Homo sapiens: one gene and its partners. The protein of the gene in region 3 interacts with the protein of the main gene of each other region in a pairwise test. Each region holds a gene or a part of one and is shown on either strand. Other genes may lie near its edges.

Region 1 (7,106 bases), on a different chromosome or scaffold from region 3:
GCAGTTTTTAAAGCCAGATCACACTGTTTTCCAATCCAGAAATCCTTGAAAACTCAAGGATCTCATGGATCAGGTATATTATTTAGGGATAATGTAAAGCTACAGCAGGTGAGAAAGACACTGGGCTCCTCGGACACACAGAGAAGACATCACTCTTTATGTGAATCCCATATGTCACCCTGGCCACACCGTGAGAGGGTCCTGCCTTCCTACCCCCTTCCTACAACCATACAGGACACTCCAGGGAAAACTGGGCTAGAACCACTACTGTTTCTGCCACCTTGCTCAGGCCTCCAAGTCTGCAGGATGCAGACACTCTGTTTTCTCTATTTCTAAGTATGCTATCAGTCTGAGATGCACAGGCAAGCATTTATCTGCAAAGCCACAATAAAGACCCTATATTCAAAGAAAAATGAAATCTTGAAAATATGCCACTTTCACCATGCCATTCTATTGCTCAAAAGTCTTCATTGATTCTGCATTGCCTACAGAATATAGTTTATACTTCAGACTACTGAGGTGACCTCATCCCTCCTCATCCCTCCTCTCCATTTCTCAGCCTCATTGTTCTACCACATGGACCTTTCTATACAGTCATGCTGGCCAATTCACCACCTTCTGAATATTCCTGTGATTTCCCTGGTTGCACACATATCCTCCCTTGCCTGGAATGTACTACTGTCCATCACTCGTCTATTCAAATGCTACTTTCCATGGCTCAGCTCAAATGCCACCTCCTCCCTGAAGTCTCTTTACTAAAATTCAACTATCAGGATTTCATGCTTTTCTTCCTCTGTGAGAAAAGATGTCATATTTTCCTCTGCTTTGAATACCTCACATTGTCTGATATCCATTCTTAATAAATATTTGTTAACTGATTAATTCTAAATAAACTCCAAAAAAGGGTTACATTTGCAAAGCTCTCAAAAGTAAGGTAATGATCTGTAGCTGTTATAGCCACACAATGGAAACTTCAGAGCATCTAGTATGTTGTCATTGGATTCCTTTCCTTCCACAGAAGACCAAACTAGGTCATTTCAAACCTCAGTCACCTTCAGAGAGATTCTAGGAAGGGCACACTAAGAGTCAGCAAAGAGACGACATTCCTGGATTCCTGACTTGTTGTCCAGATCTGCTACTGAATCAGATTCAGGTAAGTGTGAATGGGAGAAATGAACTAATTATTAGTGCCATCCAAAAAAATGAAAGCAGTGCTTTTGTTATGTTGGCTGGTTTGAAAGGAAGAAAGAATTAAAAATAAGAAGAGAAATTCAGCCTACAGCCATCAATTGTCTTTTCTTCAAATGTGCTTTTCTTGCCTTTCTGGTATTTTTTTTTTTTCATACGTATGTGATGGAACTGGAATGTTTGAGAAGAATTAACTTAGGATAGAAAAGATGATTTGTTGTAATCTGATAAGGGTATTTACTAACATACTTTATCACCCAGCTTCTCCTCTAAAAGTCCCATTTTGTTTCCCCAGAACACATTTCTTTGCTAAATTAAAAAGTTCCAAAAGTGGTATTGTGCTTGTAAAATCACATCTGATTTCAGCGTTATGTCCAAGAATAGATAATGCAGTCCTATTTCTAGGTCTAGTAACAAGTGTTACTCGTTTGACAGACTTCACTCAGTAGATTTGGCCACATCCTCAAAAGACATACTATTTGGGAAGAGGAAAACTGAGTTATGGAGGGTAAGAAGAGAGTAAAACCAAACAGCAAACGGGCAGAAAGTTGATGTGAAAGTTTTAGCTTTCTAAGCATTCATTAAACTAACAAATGCTGACCATTCTCTATTGTCAGTCCTCAATATTGCTGTTTATTCAATTAGCGAGACTATACATATTTATTGAGCACTTATTTTTTACTAGCTAGTAAGCCACTAGTTATAACTTTGTGCAGCCAAAAAATTATTGAATATAATTTGAATAGGGAACATAGAGATAAAAAATTATAAAAAGGCGAATAATCAATAATGCAAAACATCGTGAGTAAATTTGAAAACTCTGGTGTCAAATTTGTGTTTACGATAAAAATTTTAAATTTTTTATTTCATATATGATTGTTCTTGCCTCATATCCCGGGCACATGGGAGTTTATTTCGTTGACTCCCAGACGTAACCAATTGAGAATAAGCTTAGTTACAAAGGAAGTAATTGAGGCTTTGAGCTCTTGAAGCTAACAGATGGAAATACGTATGTAAAAACCTAAGTGCTGTGTAAACTCGGCACATATGGACGTAGGTATTATTATTATCCAAATGGCACTACTGGGTATTTTCTTAATAGATTCTTTTAAAATGCTTTTTTATAGTTGTGGGCCTTTTTTAGACGAATAGTTCTTAAGAAGAGGAGGGGATTTTGTCCCTCAGCGACATTTGGCTAAATCTAGAGACATTTTTTATTTTCACAGCTGGGTGGCGAGTGCGGAGTGGGTACTGCTACTGGCATCTGGTGGGTAGAGGCCACGGACACTGCTTAACATTCTACAGTGCACAGGAGAGGTCCCTACAACAGAGAAATATTCTCCCGAAAGTTTCAGTAGTGCTAAGTTTGAGTAATTCTGCTCTTCACCATCAAGTTTCCTTCTCTTGGAGCCTGCTACCAGCCAATGACATCAGGATCTAACCTGAGACGAACCTAGGTGTTCTATACGGCAGCCTGGTGTACTGAAGAGTGCCTAAGGTTTGCAAGCTCGCTAGCTGTGGCTCCCCCTCTCGCTAGCTTGAGCTAGTTATTTAAACCCTTAGAGATGCCTTTCTTTAAATTAAAAAAAAAATAAATAAATCTGCACAATATGAATCATACCTACCTCATAAGGTTGCGGTGAACACTGAATGAAGTACATATATACATATTCAGTACAAGTTCGTTCCTTTATTATTTCCAGCCTACCCATCCCTCCCCCCTCCCATTCCCGCCTTTTCCCCCTCCCGGTACTGTATCTCCCACCCCAAGTCTCAGGTTCTCTTTTAAAATGCTTTAATTCCTTTGGTGGCAAAAATCAGGCTTGGGCTAGGAAGTGAGTCACCACTCAGCAGCGAAAGGAGCTTGTTTTTCTTTCTCTGAATGCATTTCTTAGTAATTTCAGACTGATCCTTTAGCCACTTGTTGGTTGAATCCTCTCTTAATGTTTAAGACACACTGAGAAAGAACTGTGGCACCAAGACGTTTTCCGATTGTTAGGAATGAGAGTGTTTTAAATACCGAAAATAACCAGAGGGCAGAGAGCTCTGAAATCCTACGTTACATAAGCAGATGCTGGAAGACCCAGGCTGGTTCTGAGGTTCCTGTCTCCACAAGCAAGTCCACGCGAATCCTCCCCGTTGCTGGATTTACTTTAATGCTGCCGAAGTCTCAAAAGGGGCCTCTGGATGCTCAGAGGACAGGCAGCGCAGGAACTTCCTTGTCAAATAAGCCTTGCCTGGAGGGAGAGGGATGGGGCGATTTTCACCCGCGGGCGGTGGGACGGGGCTGAGGGCTGGGGGCTGCCTGGCTCCAGGCCATGTCAGTGCCTCCAGCTCCAGGTCCGGGTCCACCCTGAACTTTGGCTCTGCTGCCCGGACGCCCAGCTTCACCTCCCTTGCCTCGCTTAGAAACCCTTCAGTTCTCCCGGACCGCTATGTAGCTTTTCAAATTCCCAAATTCACAGAAAACACCTTCAAAAGTCACAATCACCCACAACTCCCTCTGCCAAAAAATGTCATGCAAAAACGGAAAATACTCCGATTCCCCTTTCCTCCCAGACACTCTCTCTCTCTCTGTCTCTGCTATTCATTTTCTCCCCCACCTTTCCCCATCTGTGGTCAAGATCCCTTTCACTATTTCTAGTTCCCTCTCTTTTTTCCCTTCTCCCTCTCTCTCCCTTTTCCACTCCTTCCTCCGTTGTGACCGCGCTCCCCCTCCCCCCGCCCCGTCGTCTCTCCTCCGCCTTGCGGGCTCCAGTCTCTGCCCGCCCCTCCCCAGAGAAGAGTGTCCAGCTCCTCCAGAGGCTGCCCGCCCGCCGCTCCTTCCCTGCCCACCTACTATGAGGAGCAGCTCCTCCCACCTGCCCATAAAAGCCAAGTGCATGTTACCAGCAGCGGATCACAGCCCTTCCCCGATCCTCTCCGTGGGAGCCAGCGAGCCTCTCTCCCTGATCTTACGTGCTCAAGGTAAGACAGCACTTCTGCAGGCAGCTCACCTACCAGGGGTTGCTATGGGGGAATAAGTCACCCTCTGGCCAACGCGTTTGCTGTTTGGTTAGAGCTGATTCTTACGGATGCGCGATCCGCTGCTCCTTTAACTAGCAACTGGTTTGAAAACAAACTTCTGTTTGAATGGTAAAATAAAAGCTCCTTCAGGGAAGAAACAGCAGCATAAATATTGCGAAACCTTTCTCTTTTTAAATCACTTTTTCTCCTGTTGCTGACTGTTGCTTAGGTTAAAATGTATCTGTTTGGGGTGTTGTACTGACGTTTTTCACTGTACATATTTCACACATCAGTGGGGGCAAGGAAAACGTTGTCCCATTGTCAAAAATGTACTTTAAAAGAACACAGTTAACTTCCTAAAAATAGCACAGTCAAAAGGTCTGCTAACAATTTTGTGATGTTTTCCAAACCCCCAAGACAGCTTCTGTGAGTCCTTTAAAAAAATATCTTTCCAGGTTTTAGCGCTTGGAAAAAAATGATGTGAACGGGTGCCCTTTGCACGGGGACAGTAAGTAATCAGGTGGCTGGTAGATAGGAAGGAACAAATCCAAATTCACAAGCCAGGGTAGAATGTGCTCTCTCACCAGGCTATCTTTTCACGACATCCTAAAATGAGAATTACGATGGAACTAAGAAAGTGTATAAAAGAACTTCATGAATTTCTGTACACACACCTAAACATAAAGTGTTTCAATATGTTTCACAGTAAGAGAATAATACAGGCCAGATTATACAATACTTCTGTGCACACCAGATGGTTGTAAAGAAAGATCAGCGAGAAAGGCTTTGGAAGTTTTAATCCTTCTTTCCACCTTTTTTCCCCCGCATTTAGTAAATCACAACCTACCTGACTGGCATCCAATTATCAGAGATATTCAGTGTTTAAGCTACCCTCTTTAAAAGAAAATGATCTCTTCTTATTCCTAAGGTAGAATAAATGTGCACCTGTGAAAGGAAAAACATACTCCACAGCCACTTCTGTAAAACCAGACACTTGGTCCATGAAGTTTGCCATCAAATTCTGTGGGTTGTGTGGGATGAAACTCTCTCAAGTGGGAGAAAAACCCTCTTCAAATGTTTCCTCTGGGGAATTGCTCAAGACCACTTAGAGAAGGCAAACCAAAAGTACCAGTCAGGAAACCAAACCACTCTTTTAGCCCTTAAGGTTCTTAAAGTAAGAAGAGAAATGTTTCACTTTTTTATTTTTTTGTTTGTTTATATTATCTCATGTGGAAAGAAAAAACTCACCGAAGCTGTATGAAATTCTCCCCTATTAAAGAAACAAGACTCATTAGAAATTTAACTTAGGTCTTCCAAACCATTTCTCCTTAGCTTTTGCATATCAAAAGTAATAAAAATATTTAAAAGTTCTGCTTGAGATGGAGAGGATTCAATGCTGTTACTCAAATGCAAGAGTTATATATAAAGCTTCTGTCACGTTAAATTTTTCTTCATTGGAAAAAAATATTGCAAGAAGTGCAGTTTCCTTTAAGCAAATTATATAAAATTACTATTGGCCAAGATAGTATGTGACCTGAGCATATTAACATACCTTTTATCTCATGCCACAATGCAGACTGCTTGCTTTATATCTGATGCACATAGGTAATCAACCATGACAAGAGTACAGGTATGGGACAAGGCCAGACCAAGTATGTGGCACATTCAAGTTAATTCTTCTTTTATGGTAGTGCCTGACTCACACCCATTATCACAAGGATGAAAATACGCTGCTTCATTCACCAGATCCCCTTGAGGGAAGTTATCTTTTCTTGGGGTGGAGGGGGAAATGCTCCCAGTTTAAATGAGCTTCCAGTTATTCCTAAGTTTGGGGATAAAAGTATTCTCCAAGGGTTTACTTCTGCTTTCTCTGGCAATTAATCCACCGGACCAGCTATGGACCGTTAAACAGTAACTGCCTTCCCTATGTCCCATCAAGTTCAAGCCCCTAAATAACTGAGTGAGATCATCTTAGATTGCTCATGATCTAAGTTTCCCAGGAGCAAAGCTATCCTTTCTCCATAGGGTACATACCAAGCAAGATGACACTGCTCTTCTTAAGCTTTTAGAAAAATCAGTGTCGAAGTTTCATGTAGTCGCCCCCAAATCTCCCCTTCTGCATGGGATGTGGATACTTCACGTGAGTCTCCTCTTTTTGCCATTATATAGCTGCCTCTTGATCAAGTCCATGACTATACCCAACCAATGCCATTGAGGCAGACTTGGGAGGACTTCTTAATGTTTCTCAGAAAAGATAAGATGAGAAGCTGCCGCTTTCACTAGAGACACAAGAAGGGAGCTCTACTGATTTTGAGGGCTTGCTGATCCTACAGAAATGTGCATTTTAGATGTTCTACTACTGTCAAAATTATAAAATGATATCCTTTTCATGATCAGAAAACATATGCCACTTTATTCCTATTTATGAAATAAAAATCAAGGAGAAGAGGATTGGGGTGAAAAGGGACTTGAAAGAGAAGCTGGAGGAATCACAGAAGTGCCCTAGGAGAAAAGCAAGATTAGGAGCTCTGTTACGAAACGCAACTTCTCCCAACCCTCATTTATGTGAACATGAGGGGATGGGGAAGAGCAAAAATCCATGTCTGCTCTTGTCTTTTTATTTGTTTGTTGTTTTTTAATCAATGAGAGTATAAGATCCATCTCTACTATGCCCTTCTTCTTAGCCCTCCTTCTTTAGCAGAAAAGAACAGCTTGGTTCTAATGATGAAAATGATTTCAGGTTTGCCCCATATTTAAAAACCCACAGTAATTTGCTAGTCATAATTCTAAAAGCTATACTATGAGTTAAAATAAAAAACTCCTTAAAACATGTTTTTAACTAACAGATGGGTCACGTCAACAAAACCAACCCTAAGTCTCCTGAAAAGTGTAATGTTGAGTGCTTATTTGTA
Region 2 (7,033 bases), on a different chromosome or scaffold from region 3:
GGTTTCCCCATGTTGGCCAAACTCCTGACCTTATGTGATCCTCCCACCTTGGCCTCCCAAAGTGCTGGGATTAGAGGCATGAGCCACTGTGCCCAGCTGACAGCCCTCTCTAAATCTTTAAAAATTCAGTCAGGCGTGGTGGCTCATGGCTGTAATCTCAGCACTTTAGGAGGCTGAGGCAAGAGGAATGTGTGAGCCCAGGAGTTTGAGACCAACTTGGGCAATATGGTGAGACCCTATCTTGACAGAAAATACAAAAATCAGCCTGGCATGGTGGTGCACGCTTGTAGTCCCAGCTACTCAGGAGGCTGAGGCAGGAAGATCACTTGAACCCAGGAGGTCGAGGCTGCAGTGAGCTATGATCACGCCACTGTACTCCAGCCTGGGAGACACTGTCTCAAAAAATAAATAAATAAAATCTTTAACAATTCTTCAGCTTATCCGCCTACCTTCTGGGGCTTCTTGGGTCTCTTCCCAGAAACTTTCTTCGTCTGTAAGCCCGTTTATTGTATGCAATTGTTTAAAAAACACAAATGGGTGCATATTCTCATATTCTCTACCCTCTATTTTGAACGTTCCTTTTTTTTCTTTTTTTCAGACCGAGTCTCAGTCTGTCACCCAGGCTAGTGCAATGGTGCAATTTTGGCTCACTACACCCTCTGCCTCCCAGATTCAAGCGATTCTCCTGCCTCAGCCTCCCGAGTAGGTGGATTACAGGTGTGCACCGCTGCACCCAGCTAATTTTTGTATTTTTAGTAGAGACGAGGTTTCACCATGTTGGCCAGACTGGTCTTGAACTCCTGATCTCAGGTGATCCACCTGCCTCCGCCTCCCAAAGTGCTGGGATTATAGGCATGAGCCGCCTTGCCTGGCTCAAAGTTCCTTTTTGGTTTAACAATAGATCTAGGCCACTGTGAGTCTTCCTCATTCCTTCTAGGGCTACCTAGTGTTCCGGGGTTATTTAACCAGCCCCCTCCTACCAGGCAGTTCTTTTGTCTCTGGCCCTTTGCTACGTATATTAGTTTAAAGTTCACTTTGCAAGTGGCCAAGCCTGTTTCCCTCATTTCCAGGTTCCCAGGGGGCAGACATCCTGCTGCAATTTCAGAAGTCAGCACACTCTTCTCTCTCCTGTCTAAAATACAAAAGTCCATGCCCCCCACTCTCCCTCTTGATACTGTCCTATTTTACTTCTTTTCACAACCAGAACTCTTTATTTTTCCCAAATAAAAATAGTCCGTCTTTTCAGATTTTAAAAATGGAACTCTGGCCGGATGCGGTGGCCCTCACCTGTAATCCCAGCACTTTGGAAGGCTGCAGTGGGCAGATTACCTGAGGTCAGGAGTTTGAGATCAGCCTGGCTGACATGGTGAAACTCTGTCTCTACTAAAAATACAAAAATTAGCCCGGATGCGGTGGCTCACATCTGTAATCCCAGTACTTTGGGAGACCGAGGTGGGCAGATCACGAGGTCAGGAGTTCAAGACCAGCCTGGCCAACATGGTGAAACCCTGTCTCTACTAAAATACAAAAATTAGCTGGGCATGGTGGCATCCGCCTGTAATCACAGTTACTCGGCAGGCTGAGGAAGAATTGCTTGAACCTGGGAGGCGGAGTTTGCAGTGAGCTGAGATTGTGCCATTGCACTCCAGCCTGGGCGACAGAGCAAGACTCCGTCTCAAAAATATATATATATACAAAAATTAGCTGAGTGTGGTGGTGCATGCCTGTAATCCCAGCTACTCGGGAGGTGAGGCAGGAGAATCACTTGAACCTGGGAGGCGGAGGTTGCAGTGAGCCGAGATTGTGCCATTTCACTCCAGCCTGGACAACAAGAGCAAAACTCGTCTCAAAAAAAAAAAAAAGGAAAATAAAAATCCCTGATAAAGGATCAATGACCTTAGGATAATGTCATTCCAGGTAAGTATCTTTAACTGGGTACTTGGTCCTCCAAGATTCAGAGGACCTTGATCCCCCTGAAACTGTATACATAATATTCAACATACATAGTATGTGCACACATGTGCAAACACTCACATTATCTAAAATTCATCATAATCTTACCCCGGCTTCTCCCCACACTCCTCAGATCCTGCTATAGCCTAGTGCATTTTCTCCTTCCTCACTCCCTTCCCTCCATGTGTCCTCTGCCCTGGCCACCAGGAACTTTGTGCTGCCTCCGGAGTGCATGAGGCACTTTCACATCTCTCTTGCTTTACAAGAGCTTCCCTATGCTCCAACTGGCAAATTTCTCTATGGACTGAAAAACCCACATAGCCTTTATCTGTCTTGTGATGTCTTCTCCCCACCCTCAAGTTAGGCATACCCTTCTATGCCCTCCTTTATCCAAACATTTTCCCCACTATATCGTAATTGTGTGTTTAAGTGCCGGACTTTCCAACTAGATACAAAGCTTTCCCAGGAAAGAAATCCTTTTCTTTTCTTCTTTCTTTCTTTTCTTTTCTTTTCTTTCTTTTTTTTTTTTTTTTTTTTGAGACAGATTCCCACTGTGTCGTCCAGGCTGGAGTGCAGTGGCACAATCTTGGCTCAGTGCAACCTCCACCTCCAGGGTTCAAGTGATTCTCTTGCCTCAGTCTTCCAAGTAGCTGGGATTACAGGCACGCGCCACCACACCCAGTTAATTATTATTATTATTATTATTTTTTTTTTTTTTTGAGACGGAGTCTCGCTCTGTCACCCAGGCTGGAGTGCAGTGGCACAATCTCGGCTCACTGCAAGCTCCGCCTCCCGGGTTCACGCCATTCTCCTGCCTCAGCCTCCCGAGTAGCTGGGACTACAGGAGCCCACCACTACGCCCGCTTAATTTTTTTTTTTTTTTGTATTTTTAGTAGAGACGGGGTTTCACCGTGGTCTCGATCTCCTGCCCTCGTGATCCGCCCGCCTCGGCCTCCCAGAGTGCTGGGATTACAGGCGTGAGCCACTGCGCCCGGCCTCCACACCCAGTTAATTTTTGTATTTTTAGTAGAGACGGGGTTTCACCATGTTGGCCAGGATGGTCTCAATCTCTTGACCTTGTGATCTGGCTGCCTCGGCCTCCCAAAGTGCTGGGATTACAGGCGTGAGCCACCGCTCCCGGCGAGAAACCTTTTCTTTTTCTTTTTTCTTCTTCTTCGTCTTTTTTTTTTTTTCTTTTGAGAGGGATTCCTGTTCCGTCGCCCAGGCTGGAGTGCAATGGCGCGATCTTGGCTCACTACAGCCTCTGCCTCCCGGGTTCAAGCGATTCTCTTGCCTCAGCCTCCCGAGTAGCTGGGATTACAGGCACGAGCCACCACGCCCGGCTAGTTTTTTTTGGTATTTTTAGTAGAGACGGGGTTTCGCCATGATGGCCAGGCTGGTCTGGAACTCCCGACCTCAGGTGATCCGCCCACCTCTGCCTCTCAAAGTGCAGGGATTACAGGCATGAGCCACTGCGCCCAGCCAAGAAACCATTTCTGATTCACCTATTCACTCCCGCACTCCCACTACACAGTAGCTAAATAAATAAATAAATATTAAAAATAAATAGGAAAGAAAGAGAGAAAAAAAGAAAAGAAAAAGACAAAAATTTAAATTTAAAAAGGTTGTGCTCGATGGCTCACACTTGCAACCCCAGTGCTTTGGGAGGCTGAATGAAGCAAGAGGATCGCTTGAGGCCAGGAGTTTGAGATCGGCCTGAGCAACGTTGCAGCATTGCAAAACCCCCATCTGTACAAAAAAGAAAAATAAAATTAATTTTAAAAACAAAAAAAGAGAAACAGTAGCACATGTATGTACTGGCACCATGTATGTACTAGTAAAAACTAGTTAAAATTAAGTCAGTAATTAATGAAGGAATAAGTCAATGAGTGAGCAGGCGAAGGAAGAAAACATAGACCGGAGCAGGTGCGCCTTGGGTTGAGCCCTTCCCCGCTGAGCCCCGCCTTCTGCCCGCCCCTGGGCCCTACCGGGACTACATTTCCCAGAAGGCCGCACGCCCCGGGCATGCGCAGCGGCTCGCTCGGAAGCTGCGACGCCGAGTTTCACTCTGGCTGCCTTCTCCTGAGAGTCGGAGCCACAGCCAGAGCCCTGCCCAGGCCGAGCCGGAGCTGCAGCCCGAGCGCGGTGGTGCCCTCAGCCCCGTCCTCTTGTCCTCCTCAGCCTCGGTGAGAGGGCGGGAAGGCCACCTGCGCGTCGCTAGGGCTGCGGTCCCAGGGGCGCGGGGTGGCGCGGGGAGCCGGAGCCTAGCTGGGACCGGAAGGGGGCGGGCGTGGGTGTGAGGGGGACCGACGGCCGGGGCGGCGGGGACACCCGGGGGTCCCGGGAGATCGGGGGTGTCGGGGGGATCGGTCTCCGGGATCAAGGTCCTGAGGGCGAGAGTTGGGGGACTTGGGAGGCGCCGGCAGCTTTGGACGGGACAGGGTGCCGGGTGCGAAAGGGGACGTTCGGATGAAGGCTGAGGGGCTCGCAGGCGGAGGGGCGCGGTTCCGGGTCGCTCGGAAGGCGCGCACCCCTTCCCAAAGTACCCAGAGGAGGGGGTGACGAGATTGCCACCGGCTCCCTGACGAGGGGTTGGTCCTGCTGGGGTCTACCCCCAGGTGAAGGGACTCACTGGGCCGGGGGTTGTACTTTGGAGGAGTTTGCTTCCTAACTCTGCTTCCCTGCTTTCCTGTGGGGGGTCTTCCCAGGAGTTCCTGGGGCCCTGGGTCACTTTTTGGGGTGCGTAAGGGGTGCCGAAAAAGATTTAGAACTCGGTTCCCTTTTCTGGAGCTGCGCTTTCATCGCGACTGTCTCAGCCAGCTGCCCTCCTCCTCCAAGCTGGCTCCACTTCTCTAAGCGCCAACAGCGATGGAAATAAATAGCATGTGTACAGACGCCTGGACCCTTGAGAAACTCAGAATATTTCTGCATGCCTTCCTAGCTCCTCTAGCGCTCTAGAAGGTAGACTTTCTGGTAGCCACCATCCGGGCTTAAGCCATCCGGATAGCAAGCCCTCTGATTCGGTTGCTCTGTGACCTTAAATATTTACCCTCTCTGGTGTGTTGATTTCCTGGATGCTTAGCTGCCAGACTGGCTTATGAAGTCCTTTTAGAGTTTTCTGTAAAAGGGCTCAGGCCAGGCACGGTGGCTCATGCCTGTAATCCCAGCCCTTTGGGAGGCCGAGGTGGAAGGATCATTTGAGTCCAGGAATTTGAGACAAGCCTGGGAAACGAAGAGGATTCCTGAGATCACTGTCTCTATAAAAAATCAGATGGGCGTGTTGGTGGGTGCCTGTAGTCCCAGCTACTTGGGAGGCTGAGGCAGGAGGATCGCTTGAGCCCAGGAGTTGGAGGCTGCAGTGAGCTGTGATCACACCACTGCACTGCAGCATGGGCGACAGAGGGAGACCCCGTCTCAAAAAACAAAAAACAAACAAACTAAAAAAACGAACTTTTTTTTTTTTTTAAGAAAAGGGCTCAGAGCCAGGCGTGGTGACTCGAGCCTATAATCCCAGCTACTCGGGAAGCTGAGGCAGGAGAGTAGCTTGAACCTGGGAGGCGGAGGCTGCAGTGAGCCGAGATCACGCCACTGCACTCCAGCTTGGGTGACAGAGCAAGACTCCGTCTCCAAAAACTAATAATAATAAAAAATTTTAAAAAGAGCTCAGGGTTTTTTTGTTTGTTTGCTTTTTGTTGTTTCTTCAACCATCTCCTTGATTGTTAAGTGGGTGGAGGAAGACTGTTGTACCTCCTGCTCCACCCAGGCTATTGGAAAATAAATCTGGTGATTTTCAGTCCCCAGGCACAGCACACGGATCCAACATCTGTACCTTTGTTTTTACTAACTGCTGTTTCTTAATTTAAAACCTGATCATCTTCTTCCTCGTTGGCAAAGGTGCCTTGGAATTTGTGTCGCTGAGTCAGCAAGCCTTTCAGATTTGCCCGGTTTTTGTTGTTTGTGGTTTGTATCAAGATGGGAACTCAAACAAGTCATTCCTCCTAAGGAGCTGGTGTCTTCATCCAGAAGGGACAGTTTGTGCCAGCTCTCCAGAGAGAAAAGGTGAGAGCCATGGGGACTTGACCTTGCTGCCTTCTCTATCTGGTGCAGAGAAGGTGGGGATTGGGGAGGGTGGAATTTGAGGTCTGCAGGATAAACGTGTGCCCTGGGAGTTGACTGTTGATTGCCACCTGTCTCAAATAAATTGCAGTGGCGTCTTGCCACTGCTTCTCCTGTTTAACTAACTAGTCTTAGAAGATGCTTTCCACTTTAAGACATGCTTTATGGGATAGAAGACACAAGTCACGATTTCTGCATTTGAAGTGGCAGTTTTCATTTCTTTTGTTGCATAAACCCTTACTGGGTGCCAGATAAGATCTCTGTCTTTTGGGAGTGCATTGTTTGGTGGAAAAGACAAAGCAGAGTCAGTGACAAGGTGTTGTCAGTGTGATATATACTGAGCTGGGAGAAATCACAAGGCTCTCCTACCCACATCCAGAAAGGGGACGGTTAGAGGGAAGGTCAGGAAGGCTCCTGGAAGGTGGTAGTTGAGGGGGGTTGTGAAGGAGGAGTAGGACTTAGAAAGTGGGGCACAGTCACCTGGGAGAGGAGTCAGCGTTTGCAAAGTCATGAAGCTACCGGGACACAGCTGGGCTACTGTAAGTAGCTTAGTATGTAATAGAGGAGGCTGGAAAAGCAGGCAGAGGGCTCTGAGCGAGGAGGGTTATGTGGGCCATGCCAAGACTCGGGAGTGGAAGGATTTTAGGAGATTTCTATGAGGGTCATTTTATTAATTATTTTTTTGAGTTGGGGTCTGCTTCTGCTGCCCAGGCTGGAGTGCAGTGGAGTGATCATAGTTCACCACAGCCTCAAATTCCTGGGCTCTGGGGTAGCTGAGGTGCCTACCACCATACCCGACTAATAATTTTATCTAGAGACAGTGCCGCTCTACGTTGTCCAGGCTGGTCTCTAACTCCTGGCCTCAAGGGATCCTCCCATCTCAGCCTCCCAAAGTGCTAGGATTACAGGCCTGAGCCACCGTGCCTGGCCTCGTGAGGGACATTTTAATGGAGCACACTGGAAC
Region 3 (7,421 bases):
TCATCAAATCCTTTCTTCTGATCTATCCAAAAACTAACATCATGCACATAACATGGAGGATACAGAGAATGACTTTTAAAGGGTTCTATTTTGCCAGGGACAAAATTTTTCAGGAAACGGTTATCAAACGTCCACAACATTCTCCAGTCAGAGATACACCAGACAAGCATGGCTAATAAGTCCAAGTTCATAGACACAAACACAAAACACTGGTCTTTATGTATAACACTAGTGGCAGATGTGATAACAGACCCAATAATTAGATCCTCAGTACAATCTGGGCTAAAATTATGAGTCTTCACACGAATCATATAATCCTTTCCATTTGACTGAAGGACAAATTTGACTAAACTGCTCAGCTTAGAGCTCTCCGGCAATGTCTGGGTCAGCAGGCTATCTAGAATGCCCTTCAGATGATCCAGCAGTGATTGAAGACAGCCATCCTTCAGATTTTGATTAACCCCAAGGATAAATAAAGTTTCATGAAATGCTGGCATTGTGAAAGGCAAAATGTGGCACTTCTGAAAGACAGGTCCACTGAGGATGTGCAGAGAACCTGAGAGGAAGTCTGGTACTTCGATGACATCCTGAACATGCACTAGGAGAGAAGGTCTAAGGCAGATCTTGGCCTGGCCACAGGTTCCTTCACAAGCTTCTTCTTTACCATCTCTTCCAGGATTCTTGAGAAGGCTAAGTTCTGAAAATGACACTAGAAAGTCTTCCACATCTTGTGATGTCCCACCAGTCAGGGACTCAGAATTTGAGTTATCTTCATGGAGACTAATCCAAAAAGCAGCTGACAGAAAGTCACAATTCCAGAAAGGAAGAACACTGGTACCTTCCTGTGGCAGCAAAGGGTAGGAACACTTCAGCCTTTTTAGCGGGAAAACTTTGCCTAATTCAGCAATGAGTTTCTCATTTATGGTTTTGATAGGATGACATGAAGGTGCTTCCAGGAAACCCCTGTTTAAACACACACAAAAATAACTTTTCTAACTTAAGATAGTAAATAATTATAATGTAGCTAGAATTAAAAATACAAATAGCTGGACAGAAAAGAATTATCTTTAAATTGATCTTGAAAGGAAACAAAGAAATCATCTACCATAAGGAGAAACAGACGTGTATTTCAGAACTCTGACAGCCACCATCCCTACAATATATCAGAAAATGTGACCATTTATAATTCTAGAGATGCTTAAGGAGGCCAGGCTGACAAATAAACATAGCACCAACATCACTAACAATTTATGCACCATCCATTCAATATATGGTTGCCATCAAGACAATCAGGATACAACTGGAGATGGAAGTGATTTCCAGCAAAATAACTGGTTACCTGTTCAACTTTCCTACAAGTGCTTCTGGTTCTGGAAAGGAAAACCACTGGTTACCCAGTTTGATCCTGAAGATTCTGGGTTGAGAACCTTCAAAAGGTAAGCTCCTGGTGAAGATATGGTTCAAAGCACCTTCTACATGAAAGGACTTATCTTGACTCCTGGCAAAATAGACACCAATATGAAGTCTGTCATTATTAAAATAAGCAAGTATTTTTAGAGACCGAATCAATTAATTGGCAGGGCCTATTGAGTCTGTCTATGAGATTTTGTTATCATTAGTGAGAGAGATGAAAACGCAGAAGGCTTAAACCTATGCTATTACCTACCTATATCCAGTGCACTTGTACCCTGCCACAGCCTTACAGCTGAATGGATACACGTCGCTTAAAATGAGCCCCCCCAGGGCTGCCATGGCAACCACTTGCCAACTGTTGTGCCATTCTCTCTGGGGCTTATCCGCAGGAGTTCCACCTTGTCCTCTACATAATGCCACGTGGACTTCTCCTTCCTCTGCAAGAACGTCTGCACAGCTAATAGGGAGAAAAGAAACACTAACTAATTATCATAAACAAGCAGAAATTACCACAGGAGTTGGCAACATACACATGGTTTGCCTGTGAAATAATTAAAATCCAATCATACCTATGTGCAAAAATCTATTAGACCTCAAAAAATGCAAAGAAAGTAGCTGGAAGTAAATAGAAGCATAAATTAAATGTTCAACCCACTCACTGATAAGATTGGCTGACCAGGGTCTGCTTTGCATTTGTGTCATTCATGCATATGTCACAGAAAGATCAATATCTGCACAGTTCCTATATATGATTCATTGCTTAGGCTGTTTCTTCCCATTTAGAAAGTTCTTTTCACTGCCCTCCTGAAATTCAAATACTAGTTTAAAATACCACCTCTGTCAAAACTTTATTGACAGCTATGCCCCATCGGACACCTCCAATAGTATCATGTCTTGTGGTATAATCATGTAAAGCACTGTTTTCAGTTCACAATAATTTTATGAGGCTGTTAGTTACTTTTTTTTTTTTTTTTTTTTTTGAGATGGAGTCTTGCTCTGTCGCCCAGGCTGGAGTGCAGTGGCACGATCTCAGCTCACTGCAACCTCCACCTCCCAAGTTCAAGCGATTCTCCTGCCTCAGCCTCCCAAGTACCTGGGACTACAGGCACGTGCCAGCACGGCCAGCTAATTTTTATATTTTTAGTAGAGGCGGGGTTTTGCCACTTTGGCCAGGCTGGTCTCAAACTCCTGACCTCAGGTGATCTGCTCACCTCGGCCTCCCAAACTGCTGGGATTACAGGCATGAGCCACCACGCCTGGCCCAGTTAGTTACTATTAATATCCCTAGTTTACAGTTGAGGAAACGGAAGCATGTAAAGATTAAGTAAGCTTGCTTAAAATAACAACTGTTGGCCGGGCGTGGTGGCTCATGCCTGTAATCCCAGCACTTTAGGAGGCCAAGGCAGGCGGATCACAAGGTCAGGAGATCGACACCATCCTGGCTAACACGGTGAAACCCCATCTCTACTAAAAATACAAAAAATTAGCTGGGCGTGGTGGCGGGCGCCTGTACTCCCAGCTACTTGGGAGGCTGAGGCAGGAGAATGGCGTGAACCCAGTAGGCGGAGCTTGCAGTGAGCCGAGATTGCACCACACCACTGCACTCCAGCCTGGGCGACAGGGCGAGACTCTGTCTCAAAAAATAAAAATAAATAAAAATAAAAAAATAACAACTGTTAAGTGGTGGGCTGGGATTTGAATCCAGGCAGTCTGGCTTCTAAGTGCACGTTCTTAGCCATTAGACTATATGGCTCTCATTATTTTGCACTGTCAAAAATAAATGATCCTCTTTTACACACCCAAGAGTACATTATTTGTACTTTCATTTAGCATTTAGGGTTTATATATCTGTCTTTCCAACTAAACTTGGGGTTCCTTTGGGGCTTTATAGTCTCTTCTAAACATATCATAGTAGCTTGCACGTGTGCCTTATGTTTGGGTACAGTAACTATGTTATGGACATCTTAAACATTTTCCTTGTGAGGGCGCTCCTTTCCTCACCTTTGGAAAAATTTGGCAAGCAGTTCCCTGTTCTTAGCTACGCCAGCTTTGCGTCCACAATGCGGGAAGATGAAATAAATTTGATCAAATTCTCTCTCGTGCAGTTCAAAGACATCTGCCAGCTGGGTGCAGTCCACACCGAAACGTACATCGATACCTGGCAAAGATAGTTTGGGGGCGCAAAATATAGACAGGAGGATGCCTCAAGACATGGAACAGAAAAACTCTTCCTAACTTAAACCGTGCAGACCAGCCCAAGTCTGGGCACAAAGCCGGCTTTATGTGAATATCCGTGGGACGATCAAGAACAATCTCCACGTGGGTTACATCCCCACGCCCCCACCCTTTCCACTTTGGGACGCGCCGGCCGCTGGGCGGGGTTTCGCAGAGGGGCGGGCTCGCTACCTCGCTCGCGCAGGCACTGCAGATTCTCCCAGGCCAGTGGATCCCGAGCCAACTCGGCCGGGCGCTGGAGGCAGGTGGCGGTAAGTTGAGTGCTCTGATCCAGGGTTTCGCTCAGAGCGGCGGCGAAGGAGAAATTCCCCTCCCCAACCAACAGGAGGCGCCGAGGGGCCATGGCCTCCACGGACTCCCGGCTCGCGTTCTCTGTGGCGCTCGTTTTACGTCACTTCCTTCACGGATCTCTCTCCGCCCCGTCTTCTCCCGTCACTAGTTGATGACGCACCCATGGCGCCTGGTTGTCTAGACGAGCCGGTGTACCGACTCCCCGGTGGATGATAACTATGAGTGCAAAAGCAAGACGCGCACTTTCCTGTCACCTCGCCCTTTCACCCCCTCGGGAAGATCAAAGTGTCTTTAGCCCAAGCATGGCCTTGAGCGACTTCATCACACCTGCATGAGGTCACAAGCAGTCACTAGCGCAGGGGGGTGAGGCGAGTTCTGGGTGAAAGAAACGGGGCGGGGCTGAGGCCAAGGAAGAGGTTGGACTGTGTCTCGCATGCTCCTGACGCAGAAGGTTTTGAACCTTTTTTCACCTCGTCTGAAATGGCTGCCTCCCAGTGTCTCTGCTGCTCAAAATTTCTCTTCCAGGTGCTTAAATCTCCTATCTTCTATTCGTTCAAGAAAGAGTATTGAGTGTCTATTGCGTGCCAGGCCACTGTGAGGGTGGTTACGATATGTGGATGAACAAAATGTGGCCTATGATTTCAATGAGCCTGCAGTCTGGTGGGGAATGCACAGAGCAAAACAGGCAACTCTGATATGGCAGGGTGTGTGCTCTGGGAGCACACAGAAGAACGTTACCAAGTTTGGGGGCGAAGAGGGTCAGAGAGTCCTTGGATGAAGTAAACCCGAGTTGAAAGCTAACAGGGTAAAAGTGCATCTTAACTGAGTCAAGAGGCGTGAAGAGGCAGAAGGAACAATATATGCAAAAGCTTGATGGAGAAACAGAATAGTTGAGTTTGGCTGAAACACAATTGGAGGGAGAGTAACAGATGAGACTGAAGAGTTAGGCAGGGGCCAGGTCATAGGGAGCGTTGTAAGCCTTTAAAAAAAATCAACTTTTATTTTACAAATGGGGGTACAGGTACAGGTTTGTTACGTGGATATATTGCACCCAGGTAGGTTGCAGGTTTGCTACATGGGTATATTGCACCTAATAGTTTTTCAACCCACACCACCCGCCCTCCCCACTCTAGTTAGTAGCCTGGAGTGTGTGTTGTTTCCATGTTTAGGTCCATGTTTGCTCAATGTTTAGCTCCCACTTATAAGTGAGAATGTCAGAGGTATTTATACCAGAGCAACTCCGTCTTGAATAGGGGCTAGGTAAATAAGGCTAAGACCTGGGCTGCATTCCCAGTAAGTTAAGGCATTCTTAGTCACAGGATGAGATAGCTCAGCACAAGATACAGGTCATAAAGACCTTGCTGATAAAACGGGTTGCAGTAAAGAAGCCAGCTAAAATCCACCAAAACCGAGATGGTGATGAGAGTGATCTCTGGTCATCCTCATTGCTACACTCCCACCAGCGCCATGACAGTTTACAAATGCCATGGCAAAGTCAGGAAGTTACCGTATATGGTCTAAAAAGTGGAGGTATGAATTAATCCACCCCTTGTTTAGTATATAATCAACAACCATAAAAATGGGCAACCAGCTGCCCTCAGGGTTGCTCTGCATATGGAGTAGCCATTCTTTATTCCTTTACTTTCTTAATAAACTTCCTTATGCTTTATAGACTCACCTTGAATTATTTCTTGTGTCTCTTGGGGTCTGGATCAGGACCCCTTCCGGTAACAAGAACATGCTGTATTTGGTTCTCTGTTCTGTTGTAAGCCATTTTAACAGACTGAATCTTACTCTGAAAACGGTGGAAAGCCACTGAAAGATTTTAAATAAGAAGATGATACAATTATACTTTCACTTTGAAAAATTCTCCTTTCCTGTGGAGAAAGGTTTGGAGAGGAACAAGGCTGATGGCATGGCAGGATAAAACAAGAGGCAACTGCAATAATGGAGACAAAGCTGACAGTGATTTGAATTGAAATTTGGCAATGGGAATGGAGGGTGGCAGTCTGATTCAAAAATCAACAAGACTTAGTGACTGGATGAAAATTAAAGACAAGTCAGAGTCAAAGATAAGCCCCAGGCTTCTGGCTTGGACAACTGAGTGGATGGTGATGTCTGTCATTCCAGCCCTAGAGACAGTTACACCTAGATCTCCAGTATGAGTACCAGGCCCATTGGACTTTGTGGCACCAGCTACTCTGGTCATCATGTTGTTTGGTAACATCAGTGCATGCATCTGTCTTCACAAAGGCAGATGGTATGAGGGTAGTTACCTGGGATGTCATCCTTCAATGCTGCATTATTGGCTTTGTTTCTGCCTGTGGAAAGGCAAGTGGGTGGTGACTCCCAAATCATGGCCACTTGCCCATGGTAATCTGGGTGATTCTTTCTTTGCTTGGAGAACTGGGAAAGCCAGGTTTGTTGACATCTTTAAAGAACATGGAACAGCCAAGTAAGGATTTCTGTGACTCTCATAAGAAATCTTCAAAGAGCTCAACCTACTCAGCATCAAGTTACTCTTCTTCAGGAAAGGTATCATCTTCCTAAGTCAGGGGGCCAGACTCACATTTTGGGGAAAAAGAAAGATTGAGCTTTTATCTTACCAAAAAAAATGAAATCAGACATTGATCATCTGGTATATGCAATCCAGATTGATTGGGAGAACAGGCAGAAGGACAGGGTACAATAATGAATAAAACAGATCCTGTCCTTAAGGGGCATACAGCTCTGTATAGGAGATATAATGCAGACTTAAAGAACTCTAATGTATGGTAAAAAGTTATAAATACAGGGAAAGATAAAGTTTTATGTGAGTTGAAAGAGAAGCTAACTTCAGGGAAGGCATCATTTGAGCTAGAAGGAAGGAAATGATCATTTATTACTCATTTATTGTGTTATCTAGTTACTCAACTCTCACTTCTTTTTGTTCTCTTTGACTGTAGCAGTGCTTTTAGTCCCTCAATGCCTACATCTCAAAATTACCTTAAAAATTTAGCTAATTCTCCATATTGTATTGGGAATACTGAAGTTTTTCCTGTCTCTTCACGGGGCCTGGGGAGCGGGGGTGTGGATTTAATCCATGTAGTCACCCACTGTTGCTGATTGAAAGAATGGATCAAAGGGTCCCAGGACTTAGAGAAGAAGAAACAGAACCATAACATAGCCTGGATCATTAGTACGGTGTGCTTGTGTTATACCTGGCTATGTAAAACAAGGGCAGGAAAAGATGCTTTTTCTCTTCTCTGGTTTATGCAATAAGCTTTTCTATTCTTGTCTTTTCCCAGAGACAGAACCTCGCCTGTTTCCTCACAAACCCACACTGTGGCAGCCTTGTTAATGCAGATGGCCATGGTGAAGTGTGGACAGATTGGAATAATATGTCCAAGTTTTTCCAGTATGGATGGCGATGCACCACTAATGAGAATACCTATTCAAACCGTACCCTGATGGGCAACTGGAACCAGGAAAGATATGACCTG

The links. The genes of interacting proteins can lie anywhere in the genome.
Region 1: the proteins of CFAP68 (region 3) and COL8A1 interact in binary tests that used the Homo sapiens proteins (3 or more experiments, as listed by UniProt).
Region 2: the proteins of CFAP68 (region 3) and DTX2 interact in binary tests that used the Homo sapiens proteins (3 or more experiments, as listed by UniProt).

The regions. Positions count from the first base shown.
Region 1 is NC_000003.12:99,634,510-99,641,615, forward strand, and holds the start of COL8A1 (collagen alpha-1(VIII) chain precursor), read left to right. Parts: upstream 1-4,084; 5' UTR 4,085-4,155; exon of another isoform or gene 4,156-4,171; intron 4,172-7,106. UniProt on the Homo sapiens protein: Macromolecular component of the subendothelium. Major component of the Descemet's membrane (basement membrane) of corneal endothelial cells. Also a component of the endothelia of blood vessels.
Region 2 is NC_000007.14:76,457,698-76,464,730, forward strand, and holds the start of DTX2 (probable E3 ubiquitin-protein ligase DTX2), read left to right. Parts: upstream 1-4,011; 5' UTR 4,012-4,139; intron 4,140-4,242; exon of another isoform or gene 4,243-4,914; intron 4,915-5,747; exon of another isoform or gene 5,748-5,847; 5' UTR 5,848-6,012; intron 6,013-7,033. UniProt on the Homo sapiens protein: Regulator of Notch signaling, a signaling pathway involved in cell-cell communications that regulates a broad spectrum of cell-fate determinations.
Region 3 is NC_000011.10:111,875,142-111,882,562, forward strand, and holds the start of CFAP68 (cilia- and flagella-associated protein 68), read left to right. Parts: upstream 1-4,399; 5' UTR 4,400-4,419; coding exon 4,420-4,464; intron 4,465-6,343; exon of another isoform or gene 6,344-6,381; coding exon of another isoform or gene 6,382-6,474; intron 6,475-7,226; coding exon 7,227-7,421. Other genes in the region: FDXACB1 (ferredoxin-fold anticodon-binding domain-containing protein 1), read right to left, coding at 1-963, 1,340-1,498, 1,667-1,870, 3,415-3,571, 3,820-3,991. UniProt on the Homo sapiens protein: Microtubule inner protein (MIP) part of the dynein-decorated doublet microtubules (DMTs) in cilia axoneme, which is required for motile cilia beating.